Linked DNA regions of Homo sapiens. The protein of the gene in region 2 interacts with the protein of the main gene of each other region in a biochemical or structural test. Each region holds a gene or a part of one and is shown on either strand. Other genes may lie near its edges.

Region 1 (2,531 bases), on a different chromosome or scaffold from region 2:
AGTAAAATAATAGCTATTGTGATACTATAAAACCAAAATTATTTTGAACTCACTAATAGTAAGATTGAATGTTTACAAACAGAAGCATAGAGTCCCCAACTTAATTTTTTGACTTTACAATGGTGTGGAAATGACAGGCATTCAGTAGAAAGCATACTTCAAGTACCTATACAATCAATGGTTTTCACTTTCAGTGTTCAACAAATTACCTGAGAGATCCAACGCTTTAGTATAAAGTAGGCTTCATGTTCTTTGATTTTGCCCAACTGTAGGGCTAAGTGTTCTGGGCACATTTAATGTAGGATAGGTTAAGCTATAATGTTCATTAGGTCAGGTGTATTCAGTGCAGTTTTGACTTCGTATTTTCAACTTGCAATGGGTTTATCAGGGTGTAGCCCCATTTTAAGTTGAGGAGTATCTGTGTCTGAACTCTTACATTCCTTTTGAATATCCACTGAAGCACAATTCTAATAACAGCCAAGGCACTCACAATCACATAATTAACTTTGCTAGTTTTAAAATGTCCACTTTATTCCATATAACACTTAACCAGATATCATTTACATCTGAGGAAGAGATGGCCCATGAGACTGATCTATAGTAAAACACTCTAAGAAATGCAGTCCAATTTTATACACTTCCAGGCATCCCTAGACAAGTGTGTCACAATGCACAATGTGGAAATATAGGTATCACTACTACATTTTACATAAAAGGGAAGTATCAATAAACTTTAGAAAGTAGTAAATTCACCTGTCCCTTAAAATATGGGTATGCAATTGTTACAAAGCCATAGTAAATGGTTTATAAAATGTACTTTTATTTTATGTTACTCTGCTGTTACATAGGGCATAACATTTTCACAAGGCTTTTTTGGGACTACAGTCAATGATTAGCAACACACAATAGTGGTCCAACTCTCTAAATAACAATCACTAGACAAACTGGACACCCTCTCACATGTGCACAAATCTGCATGGAAAAGTACTAAAGTTTTAGACTTGGACTTGTGTACTTTAATTTATTTCCCCTTTCTAGTGTATTAAGAAATGACATGCACTTTAATTTGCCAAAAGCAATGCTTGTATTCTGGCAGCAACATGCTACTTCTATCACATAGTAAAGTGAATACCAGAACTACAAAGGCAGGAGGTGTAAGTGAATTTTTATTGGGAGGGGAGGTTGGCAACTTAAACAGCAGCAAATAAAGAGTGAATAAGGAAACTCCCTGTTGCCACAGATACACAAGACCTCCGTATGTGATACAGGAGCCATTTCAATTTGTGACCCCTAGACAGAGATGGCAAGTGCTTTTCCATTCAATCTAATACTTCCGGATTCCTACTAAAAAGGAATACATTAAGAGCATGGAAAAGTTGCTTACTGAAAGGAAACCCCCGAAGAGTAAGGGAGGGAATGTAGAAATTAAGAAGTTATGTGGAATACTCTTTAAATTGTAATTAACTACATTTTCTTATTTTCACAGTAATACAAAACACAGTCACTTGCAGAACTGGTTCAGATTACTTAAATACCAGATACATTTTTAGTCCTCTACATAAGTGTTTGGGAGTTACTTATGTTTATATGAAATGAAGCTATTAATACTTTTCTACAGCAGTACTGCACACCAGGAAGGCCAAGACAAACACAAATCAAGGAATGAAGTTTTCCCAAAGCTGCAGTGTGAAAAGACTATAAACAGTTGATTCCATACACATGAATGGGTTTCTTTGCTATAGGAAATCCAAGTGGAATAAGGAATGGAGATGTGTAAAAAGGTTTCTTGAAGGAAAGAAGGATGACACCCTGTATGGATTTAGTTTTCAGCCCCTTCTGCCGCATCACATTCTTCTCCTGCACTGTCTGATGTCCAAAGCTAGAAAAAGAAGAATCATATTAAGTTACTATTTCTAGATTAGGCAATTACACTAAGTAGTATTGTTATATCAAAATTAACTACAAGAGTAGTAAATTCCTCAAACAATGGAGATCTTGACTAAGACTGAAGTTCTCTCTCAAAACCCCAAAGACCATCACCTTCCCAAAGTACATCCTTGCAGACCTTTCACTATGCACTTACAAAATGACATACATACATACATACATATACCACTGGAGCATGGTTTTATAGCTTCCTTTTTATTTAAAAAGCATTTGGCCAGGCACAGTGGCTCACGCCTGTAATCTCAGCACGTAGGGAGGCCAAGATGAGAAGATCGCATGAGGCCAGGAGTTCAACAGCCTGGACAACATAGCAAGATCCCACGTCTACAAAAAATTTCAAAAACAAAATTGGCCAGGTACGGGGTGGTGTGTGCCTACAGTCCTAACTACTCAGGAGGCTGAGGCAGGAGGACTGCTTGAATCCAGGAGGTTGAGGCTGGAGTGATCCATGATTATGACACTGCACTCCAGCCTAGGCAACAGGGTGAGATCCTTTCTCAAAAAAAAAAAAAAAAAAGAGAAACTTTTTTAAAAAGGCACTCTACTTTCAGAATAAGCAAAGTGATAGTCTCTATTCCCAGCAG
Region 2 (4,068 bases):
TAGAATGGGTGAGGTGTGAGAGGTCTGAAAAAGTGCAAGCAGCCAGAGGGAAGAGAGGCCAGGAAGAGGGAAACTGGGAGCTCTAACCTGATGGGATAAGCCTGGTCCTTGGGAAAGAGGGAAGCAGCTGCTCAGACCGTCTAGTGCTGACTGTTCTCCCACCTTCATCCCCTTCCAGATGTGCTAGTGCTGCTGATGACAGATGTACTGGTGTTTCTCCAGGAAAAGGACCAGAAGTACATCTTTCCTACCCTGGTGAGACATTCATTCTTCACCTTTCTCAGCACAGACAAGTGTTTTAGTCTCTTCTTGCTTTCCTGCCCAAGCCCACGAGAGCTCTGGAGTCCCCCAGAGTCAAACAGCTATAATTGTTACTATTACCGTAATAATAAAAAATAAGAGCAGCTCACAGGTACTGTTACTGTGCACAGGCACTTTTACACCTGTGGGAAAAGATTATTTTCGTCCTCATTTTATAGATGATGAAAGTAAAGCTTCAAGTCAGTTAAATAATTTGTCAAGGGTTGCACACATTTCTAAGTCCCTTCTGGCTGGCACCAGTGCCTGGCTCTTAACTGGTATTGTAAGATGACTCTTCAGTCCTTTCAGTCCTCGTCCAGAAGGATTGAAGGCCTAAATATGCCAAGGGACAGGATTCCCAGGCTTAATCCTTCCTTTCCCCTGACTGGCAGGACAAGCCTTCAGTGGTATCGCTGCAGAATCTAATCGTACGAGACATTGCCAACCAGGAGAAAGGGATGTTTCTGATCAGCGCAGCCCCACCTGAGATGTACGAGGTGCACACAGCATCCCGGGATGACCGGAGCACCTGGATCCGGGTCATTCAGCAGAGCGTGCGCACGTGAGTGTCTGCCTGCCGCCTGCATGTGCTTATGACCTCAGGGTACCTGCAGCATTAGATCCCAACCATAGAACTCCCTGGGAACAGAATCCAGCATTCAGAGGTGGGGGAAGAGGTTGAGGGAGAGACAAAATGGCCCAAGACTGGAAAGGTCACCTATGTTCTTATGTCCTGTAAAGCCACATTTTATACATTGCCAACCTCAACTCCCTTTCAAATTCAGCATGAGCTGACAAGCAAGGGAATACTTTGAGCTGTCACATGGTGGCATACCTGCCAGCCAACAGTACAATTTCAGCTGCATTCACATGTTCATCTGTAGGCAGAGGGCTGTTATTTGGATTGTATTGTATTTTACATTTATTTTTCTAAAAATGAATGAAAAAGAGGATAATGAAAGCATCGATACTAGAGAGGAACAAGTCTCATAAACAGACTCAACACAATAGAAGCAAGAAGGAAATCAGTGTGTCAAAGCAGCAAATCTTTAGCTTCTATTGGACACACATTAGATTTGAGGCAGTCAACTATGTGTCTAATTGTGATGGGAAAAAACATCAAATAAAGCACAGGTAAGATGTTTAAAATGGATTCTGGAAGATTATGCCTAAAGAATGAAGTGTAAGTGTAATTCTAATTCAGATTTTTACAGGTTTTCTTTCTTTTTTTTTTTTAATTTTTTTTGAGACAGAGTCTCGCTCTCAGCTCACTGCAACCTCCACCTCCTGGATTCAAGCGATTCTCCTGCCTCAGCCTCCCAAATAGCTGGGACTACAGGTGCCCACCACGACCCCAGGCAAATTTTTTTTTTTTTTTTTTTTTTTTGGAGACAGAGTCTCTGTTGCCGGGCTGCCTCAGCCTCCTGAGTAGCTGGGACTACAGGCTCACGCCACCATGCCCAGCTAATTTTTGTATTTTTAGTAGAGACGGGGTTTTACCATGTTGGCCAGGATGGTCTTGATATCTTGACCTCGTAATCGACCCGCCTCAGCCTCCCAAAGTCCTGGGATTACAGGCATGAGCCACTGCACCCAGCCAAATTTTTGTATTTTTAGTGGAGACGGGGTTTTGCCATGTTGACCAAGCTGGTCTCGAACTCCTGATCTCAGATTTATCCGCCCACCTCAGCCTCCAAAAGAGCTGAGATTACAGGCATTAGCCACCATGCCCAGCCAAGATTTTTATAATTTTTCTTTAGCTTTCAGGGAATCAGTTCTCAACTTTATAATTTGTAAACCTTTTTTTTTTTTTAACTTCTGCACCATGGAATTTTGAAAAGGTTTTTAGAAATGCATATAAAAGTATGAAATTGCAGGCCAGGCACAGTGGCTCACGCCTGTAATCCCGGCACTTTGAGAGGCTGAGGCGGGTAGATCACTTGAGGTCAGGAGTTCAAGACCAGCCCGGCCAATATGGTGAAACCTCGTCTCTACTAAAAATACAAAAATTAGCCGGGCGTGGTGGCATAAGCTTGTAATCCCAGTTACGCGGGAAGCTGAGGCAGGAGAATCGCTTGAACCCGGGGGTGGAGGTTGCAGTGAGTCAGGATTGTGCCACTGCACTCCAGCCTAGGTGACAGAGTGAGACTCCATCTCCAAAAAAAAATTATGAAATTGCCTATTCCAAGAAAGCAGTTCAAAATAACCTGTCCTGTTGACAGATCTGTAGTGGCTTCTTTATTAATAGTATTAATATTTATAATTGTGGCCAGGCGCTGTGGCTCACACCTGGAATCCCAGCACTTTGGGAGGCTGAGACAGGCGGACCACTGGAGTTCGAGACCAGCCTGGCCAACATGGCGAAACCCTGTCTCTACTAAAAATATAAAACTTAGCCAGGCATGGTGGTGCGTGCCTGTAGTCCCAGCTGCTTGGGAGACTGAGGCAGGAGAATCACCTGAACCTGGGAGGCAGAGGTTGCAGTGAGCCAAGATCCTGTCACTGGACTCCAGCCTGGGCGAAAGTGCAAGACTCTCTCTCAAAAAAAAAATTATAATTGTGGAAATTAATAATATTAATTGTAATTGATTTGTTGAGCTTCTGTTATGTTCAAAGCACTTTAACATTTCATTTAATCCTAATGAAAAACCTATGAGGAAGATATTACCTTCATTTTTCAAATGAGGAAATAGAGAGGTTACCACCTGGTAAACAGTGGAGCCAGGATTTGCATCCTGTTTGCTTGATGCCAAAGCCTGTACTTGACCCTCTGCACTGTGCTGCCTTTCCAAGCGACCTTTGGAGAGATATATCTCAGTAAACGCAGATAATCAGTGCTAAGAAATGGGAGAAGGTCGGCCGGGCGCGGTGGCTCATGCCTGTAATCCCAGCACTTTGGGAGGCGGAGGATCACCTGAGGTCAGGAGTTTGAGACCAGCCTGGCCAACGTGACGAAACCCCATGTCTACTAAAAATACAAAAATTAGCCAGGCATGGTGGTGCGTGCCTGTAATCCTAGCTACTCAGGAGGCTGAGACAAGTGAATCACTTGAACCCAGGAGGAGGTTGTAGTGAGCTGAGATAGCGCCCTTGCACTCCAGCCTGGGTGACAGAGTAAGACTCCGTCTCAAAAAAAAAAGAAAGAAAAGGGAGAAGGTCAGGACTAAATTAAAGCTAGGGTGTGAGGCTGAGGAGTCTTATCAGAAGATGGAAGCATAAGGCATGTTTGGGAAGGAGGGAAGGCTGATTCTGGTCTATAACCTAGCTTCTGTCTCTCAATGGCATGCGACCTGTTACCCCTCCAGATGCCCATCCAGGGAGGACTTCCCCCTGATTGAGACAGAGGATGAGGCTTACCTGCGGCGAATTAAGAGTAAGTCCACCCACAAGGAGCTCCTTAGTAATTTATAATACATTCACACAATGGAATATTATGCAACTGTTAAAAAGATGAGATGGCTCTATGAGGGCTGGTGTAGATCCACAACTGAAACATATTAAGTGAAAAAAGCAAGGTTTAAAACAATGTAAAGTGTATACTACCATGTGTGTAAAAATAATATGGAAGACCAAGGTTGGGTGAGTAACTTACTTTTTCACTGTAAGGCCTTATATTAGTTAGGGTATGATTTAACTGCTATACTAAAAGACCACAAAAATCTTCTTCCTTAAAAAAGGAAGTAGATTGGCCGGGCGCGGTGGCTCACGCCTGTAATCCCAGCACTTTGGGAGGCCGAGGTGGGCGGATCACGAGGTCAGGAGATTGAG
Region 3 (3,500 bases), on a different chromosome or scaffold from region 2:
CATGGTGGTGGGTGCCTGTAAGCCCAGCTACTCAGGAGGCTGAGGCAGGAGAATCGCCTGAACCTGGGATGCGGAGATTGCAGTGAGCAGAGATCATGCCATTGCACTCCAGCCTGGGCAACAGAGCAAGACTCCACCTCAAAAAGAGCAAAACAAAACAAAACAAAAAACAAAATCAACTCCTCTATAAATCCTCTTAAAAGGTTCCCTCTGATAACAGGAAGACATGATAAAGCAAATACAGCAAAATGAACAAGTAGAGCAAAATACTGTCATAGAATCCAGGCCATGGGTATGTGCATGTTGACTGTACAATGCTTTCCACTAGTCTGTTTGAAATTTTTCATATTAAGACATTGCAGGAAAATATTCCTACTGATCACATGCAATCCTGCCTTGGTGGCAAAGACTCTTGACAAAAACATCTCCTTTCAAGGAAGACTACAATTTTAAGAGCTACGTAGTGATGGAGATGTGAAAAAGTAGGCAGTACTAAGGTATCAGATGACTAATGCAAAAAGACAGAAAGTTATAAAGGGTGAATTTAAGGTTTCTAAAAATGGCTTCCTGATGCTCCTCCCACTTAGCCCAACTCCAAACTTTTACTGTAACTATCATTTGAAATTAAAACACACACACACACACACATTATGTATAATTTTTTTGGCTTATCAAGAAAAAAAACCACATTATGTATAAAATCATCAACAAAGATCAGAGCCATATACTACACCTACATTTGGAGGCCAGTGCAGAATTCAAATACCTTTACCACAGGTCAAAAATATGAAACCCCATGCCTTGAGAGGAAAACACACAAAACAGCTGAAAAGCTTAAACAAATTCATGGTTCACGCCACCACCGTTCAACAGAAGTAAAGAATAAATGTAAAGAATGTTCCTGTAAGGATGATGTCACGGAAGGCATTTTTCACATTCAGCTAAGAAACTCCTGGACAGTAATGTATGTCCAAGTCAGACATTGGGCTAGACAGGCCACTAGCCCAATCTGGACTCCACTTTGTATAAAGAGTGAAACAGAGAGGGCTTCAAGTCATTCGTTCCCATTCCTTTAATCAACCAACACCAAAACAACACTATTAAAATAGTTGTGGCCGGGCGCAGTGGCTCGGGCCTGTAATTCCATCACTTTGGGAGGCCAAAGCAGGAGAACTGCTTGAACCCAGGAGGCAGAGGTTGCCATGAGCCCATATCATGCCACTGCACCCCGGCCTGGGTGACAGAGCGAGACTCCATCTCAAAAAATAGTAATAAGCAATAAAAAAATAAAAAATAAAATAATAAAACTGTTGTTTAGGCCAGGGACGATGGCTCACGCCCATAATCCCAGCACTTTGGGAGGCCAAGGCGGGCAGATCGCCTAAGGTCAGGAGTTCGAAACCAACCTGGTCAACATGGTGAAACCCTGTCTCTATTAAAAATACAAAAAATTGCCAGGCGTAGTGGCTCATGCCTGTAATCCCAGTACTTTTTGAGAGGCTAAGGCAGGTGGATAACCTGAGGTCAGGCGTTTGAGACCAACCTGGCTAACAAGGAGAAACCTCGTCTCTATTAAAAATACGAAATTAGTCAGTGTGGTGGAGCGTGACTGTAATCCCACCTACTCGACAAGCTGAGGCAGGAGAATCGCTTGAACCCAGGAGGAGGAGGTTGCAGTGAGCCGAGATCGCACCACTGCACTCCAACCTTTGCAAAAAGGGCGAAAACTCCTTCTCAAAAAAAAAAAAAAAAAAAAAATTACCTCGGCATGGTAGCAGGCACGTGTAGTTCCAGCTACTTGGGAGGCTGACGCAGGAGAATCACTTGAACCCAGGAGGTGGAGGCTGCAGTGAGCCAATATAAAATAAAAACAAATAAATAATAAAAGTTGTTTATAAATACCTGAATGTAAGATGCTGTCTTTTTTTTCCTTTTTGAGACGGAGTCTCACTCTGTTACCCAGGCTGGAGTGCAGTGGCACGATATTGGCTCACTGCAACTTCCACCTCCCTTGATTCAAACAATTCCCCTGCCTCAGCCTCCCGAGTAGCTAGGATTACAGGCGCCCCCCACCATCCTTGGCTAATTTTTTTGTATTTTTAGTAGAGACAGGGTTTCACCATATTGGCCAGACTGGTCTCGAACTCCTGACTTCAGGCAATCCGCCTGCCTTGGCCTCCCAAAGTTCTGGGATTACAGGCATGAGCCATCGCGCCCGGGTGATGCTGTCTTACCTAGGAAAAGCTGAGAGAAAATCTTGGGGCAAAGGTCCACTAAGTGAAAGTTAAAAGGTGGGGCAGCAGTAAGGTGGAGGAAAAAAAAATTATAGACCCCATGCTCAGAAAGGACTATCTTAGAATAAAAGAGTATCAACCCTATGTAATATTTCTTGGCCAATCTCAATTAAATTGCTATTCAGGAAATCTAGAATTTTCTAACATGCTTTGCAAATTATTTCTGACTTTTTTTCTTTTTTTTTCAAGACAGAGCCTTGCTCTTGTCGCCCAGGCTGGAGTGCAGTGACACAATCTCAGCTCACTGCAACTTCCGCCTTCCGGGTTCAAGTGATTCTCCTGCCTCAGCATCCTGAGTAGCTGGGATTACAGGCGCCCACCACCACGCCCGGCTAATTTTTGTACTTTTAGTAGAGACAGGGTTTTGCCATGTTGGCCAGGCTGGTCTCGAGCTCCTGACCTCAGGTGATCCGCCTGCCTCGGCCTCCCAAAGTGCTGAGATTACAGGCATGAGCCACCGCACCTGGCAGACATATTTTCATACGGGTGTATTATCAGTCTCTATCAGTCAGGGTCCCAGAAGGAAAAAACTCATCCCAGAAGATTGAAATAGAGATTTTCATGAAGGAATTATTTACACAGCCCTGTATGCAGAGTTAAGGAGCAAACAAGATGGCAAGGCATCCAATTCTAGAAATGATAAGACAGAACCATCCCTAGGGATGATGAGACAAGGAGCAGGAGTTTCCTTAAGAGCCCAGTGTAAGCAGAGGCACAGGAGGGCAGGATGGAGGGACGTACAGCCTGAAAGGACACTGCCATGGTCCAGGCAAAGGGTCAAAGCAGGAACAGATGAAGATGTATCTCCTTTAAAAACAAACAAACAAAAAAAGACAGTTTCCCTCTGTCACCCAAGCTGGAGTGCAATGGTACAATCTTGGCTCACTGCAACCTCCACCTCCCAAGTTCAAGCGATTCTCCTGCCTCAACCTCCTGAATAGCTAGGATTACAGGCGTGCCCAGCTAATTTTTCTATTTTTAGTAGAGACGAGGTTTCGCCATATTGGCCAGACTGGTCTCAAACTCCTGACCTCAGGTGAACCGCCCACCTCGGCCTCCCAAAGTGCTGGGATTACAGGCTTGAGCTACCGTGCCCGGCCAAAGACGTATCTCTAATAGTTTTTGTTTTTGCTTTTTTGAGACAAGGTCTCACTCTGTCGCACGGGCTGGAGTGCAATGGCACAATCTCAGCTCACTACAACCTCC
Region 4 (3,500 bases), on a different chromosome or scaffold from region 2:
GTCCATGCTAATCTAATGTCCTTTACTTCAGTACTTGATCGAACCCCTCTCATCGACTTAAGGATATCACTTCTATGGTTGTCACTTCCTTCTTGTACATGACCATTTTCCTCCTCTCCACTAAATCATTCCCATTAGCACACAGACATCATCTTTTAGAAAAACCCTCCCTTGACTCCATTTTAAGATAGTGCTCCATTTTTGTTACCCTTCCCAGCAAAATTCCTTTAAGAGAAAAAAAAACCTGTTTATACATGCCATCTCAATGTCCTCTTCTTCCACTTTCATGAATTTAATTAGACTTTCATCCCCATCTCTCTACTGATAACTGATTATTAAGGTCATTAAGAACCTCTACATTGGCAAATCCAATGTTCATTTCTCAGTCTCATCTTAACCTATCAATCACATTTGACACATAATCTACCCTCCTCCTCCTTCGGGAAGCACACTGTTCTCTTCATCTCCAGGACACTTCACCTCCAAGACACTTCTCTGTTCTCTCACACTAGAAAGGCCACTCCTTGGTCTACTTTGCTAGTTCTTCCAACCTGTAAACAGTGGAATAACCTAGAGCTCAGTACTCAAATCTCTTTTCTTTAACTGTACTCATTCCCTAGGTGAGTGATCTCATCTACCTACTATATATACCAACTATATATTATCTACTAATAAATTTATGTTTATAGTCCTGACTTCTCACCCTTGAACTCCAGACTCTTAAGCCAAACTCTACTCCAGCTCCACTTAAATGTCCAATTAACACTTCAAATCAGCACATTCAAAACCAACTCTTTATTACCCAACTTAAGTATGCTCTTCACCATTTCAACAGATGGCAACTGAATTTTTTCAGCAATTCAGACCAGAAATCTTGTAGTCATTGCTGATTCCTCTTTCTCTAATATTCAGTTCATCTTGTCAGCTAGTCCTTTAATTTCCTGAATCTGACCACTTCTCACTTCCACTCCTACCAAGACACCACCACTCTGAACTATTACAACAGTCTCTCGCAGTCTATTTTCCATAAAAGCGGCCAAAATGATCTGTTTAAAACATAAATCAGATCACATTACTCCTCAGCTCAAAACCCTCTAATGACTTCCCAACTCTGCAGAATAAAATAACTTATAAGAGAGAACTTCCCTCTCTACTCTAAAATAGCACACCTGTTCCTCCATTACTCTGTTAACTCCCTTACTTTGCTTTTTCTCACAGCATTTACCATCTGTTACTACATATTAATTTATTTTATTTTCATTAGAATAGTTTCTTGCACTTGACAGGGACTCAAATAATTGTTGAATAAATGAATGAGTGACTTCTAATATTCCTTTTCTTTGGCCATTTATACTTTAAGTTCAACAGTGACTAGTTGTATCCAGAAAAGGGATCTCCAGGTTGAAAACCACAGAGAACACCCTGGATTCTTATTTCCTGGGACTAGAGACAACAGCCCAAATAACTTGAAATAGAACTGGTAACACTCACTCTCAGAGGGTTTTCATTGAGGTATGGAGGCTCCCCTTCAATCATTTCGATGGCCATGATGCCCAGGGACCAGATGTCAACCTTGGGCCCATAGGCCTTTCGTGTCACAACCTCTGGTGCCATCCAGTATGGGGTTCCTACCATGGTGCTCCGTTTGCTCTGCTCTGGGGTTATCTGTGCACAGAATCCAAAGTCAGCTAGAAAAGAAAAATAAGAGAAAGAACATACATTTAGGATATACACTCACTTCAGTAAGTGTTGACTGTGTACCTACACATAGGTGACAAGATCCGCCTGGCTTCCAGCTCTGCTATCCTTTGTCTCTCCAAAGTCACTTGACTACCACCTTCATGTCTAGCTCCTAGCCTATTTCCTATTGAACCCTGAAGAGAAATAGAAGGAATATAAGAAACACCATCTCTGGCCTCCTACTTCTCCTCAAACCAGGGGACTTAGTGTTAAAGTCCAAGCTGCCCATTTTGGTCTTGATTGCTCATCCCAATTCTGCTTTGTTCTTGAAAAACCATTCCCATAATCCCAAATCTGGCGACTAGGTCCTTGTCTTATTCCTTGGGCACGAGTCCTTGATTTAAACCCCAATCACCTATGACTAGGCATGGCCCTGTTTTTATGCCCCAGACCCAGGGCTGCTAGCAGTCCTTCCATAAACTGCCCATCCACCCATGACACAGCCTGTTTGTCTGGTCTACTGGTCTTTACACCTTTGAACAAAATGCTCTACCTGCCATGGTTTTTACATTATATTGCAATTATAAATTTATTTAAATTAGGAAGCCTTTGAGAGTATGGATTATGTCCTCTTACTTGTCCTCATATCCCTAGAAGGACCAGCATGTACTGGACATTCAATAAAAGTTTGCTGAATAACTGAATGAAAGAAATTATACAAAACTCTTTTTTCTAATTATCTATTACACGTTTTCCATACTAGATTGAGAAGGTAGGGAAAATTTACTCTCAGTGCCCATCACAGGACCTAGCACAGAGTAACCATTCAGCAAAGTTTTTTGTGGTTGTTGTTAAATGTATAAATGAATGAAAAAATAATGAAATGATATCCTATGATTAATACAGAAAATATAAAACAGCCCTCATATCCCATGAAATCATAAAGACCCTTTGGTGAGTGTCGTAGTTACTATTATATGATGACCATCTCACAGGAGACAGGGCCCCACAGGCAGAGAAGTATTATCATTCCTAAGGCTCCTACTTACTTAGCTTGACAGAGCCATCCATTCCCAACAGAATATTGTCACTCTTGATGTCTCTGTGAATGACCTGGTTCGAATGCAAGAACTCCAGAGCCTGCAGACACTATTGAAGTGGTGTGGGCAGGGGGAGAAAGAAAGGACATACATATAATACAGAAGACTTAATAGAAAATCCACTAATTCAACCTCTTCACTTTAAAATAAAGGAAGTAAGGCCCCAGTGAGTAAAAGGACTTGCCCCAAATCAATCGCAGAGCCAGATCTAGAAACAAGTCTTCCATCTCCTAGCTAAACATTCTTTTAACACTCCATGCTGCCTTTCACCTTAAAACAGTTTTTTTAAGTAAAGGAGTTCCTCCAATGTAATTTTTTTTCTAATTAGATCCTTGGTAAAGGACCTAAGGCCCAAGAGAAATTACTGAAGAAAAATGGAAAGGATCTTATAATGACAGACCAGAGGAAAACAACAAATAAGGGTCATATTTGAGGAAGCAGACATATGGAAGTGATACTAGAAGCAGTAAGTTAGCAGGATAATCTTATTTTGGTGAGGAGATATTTTGTACTATTTTGGATATGCTGAATTTGATATCTGAAGACAAATGTCTGGTAGGCAACTTAATTTATGATAAATTATGGTAAATATTTACAAGTCATTTGGGAAGAGATGATTTTTGTTTAAGTTATAAAAATGGTTGAACCCGGCAAAGGGTAAAGGAGAAAGAGAAGAATCTTGGAAAACACCTATACTTAGCAGGCAGAATGAGTAATAAA

Evidence for each region. Proteins that work in one complex are often made in the same cells at the same time.
Region 1: the proteins of ARHGEF2 (region 2) and YWHAQ form a complex in vitro, tested with the Homo sapiens proteins (one study listed by BioGRID).
Region 3: the proteins of ARHGEF2 (region 2) and RAC1 form a complex in vitro, tested with the Homo sapiens proteins (one study listed by BioGRID).
Region 4: the proteins of ARHGEF2 (region 2) and PAK1 form a complex in vitro, tested with the Homo sapiens proteins (one study listed by BioGRID).

Annotation. Positions count from the first base shown.
Region 1 is NC_000002.12:9,583,467-9,585,997, forward strand, and holds the end of YWHAQ (14-3-3 protein theta), read right to left. Parts: intron 1,880-2,531; coding exon 1,820-1,879; 3' UTR 501-1,819; downstream 1-500. UniProt on the Homo sapiens protein: Adapter protein implicated in the regulation of a large spectrum of both general and specialized signaling pathways. Binds to a large number of partners, usually by recognition of a phosphoserine or phosphothreonine motif.
Region 2 is NC_000001.11:155,954,507-155,958,574, reverse strand, and holds part of ARHGEF2 (rho guanine nucleotide exchange factor 2), read left to right. Parts: intron 1-178; coding exon 179-255; intron 256-692; coding exon 693-862; intron 863-3,605; coding exon 3,606-3,673; intron 3,674-4,068. UniProt on the Homo sapiens protein: Activates Rho-GTPases by promoting the exchange of GDP for GTP.
Region 3 is NC_000007.14:6,377,527-6,381,026, reverse strand, and holds part of RAC1 (ras-related C3 botulinum toxin substrate 1), read right to left. Parts: intron 1-3,500. UniProt on the Homo sapiens protein: Plasma membrane-associated small GTPase which cycles between active GTP-bound and inactive GDP-bound states.
Region 4 is NC_000011.10:77,334,595-77,338,094, forward strand, and holds part of PAK1 (serine/threonine-protein kinase PAK 1), read right to left. Parts: intron 2,830-3,500; coding exon 2,730-2,829; intron 1,689-2,729; coding exon 1,492-1,688; intron 1-1,491. UniProt on the Homo sapiens protein: Protein kinase involved in intracellular signaling pathways downstream of integrins and receptor-type kinases that plays an important role in cytoskeleton dynamics, in cell adhesion, migration, proliferation, apoptosis, mitosis, and in vesicle-mediated transport processes.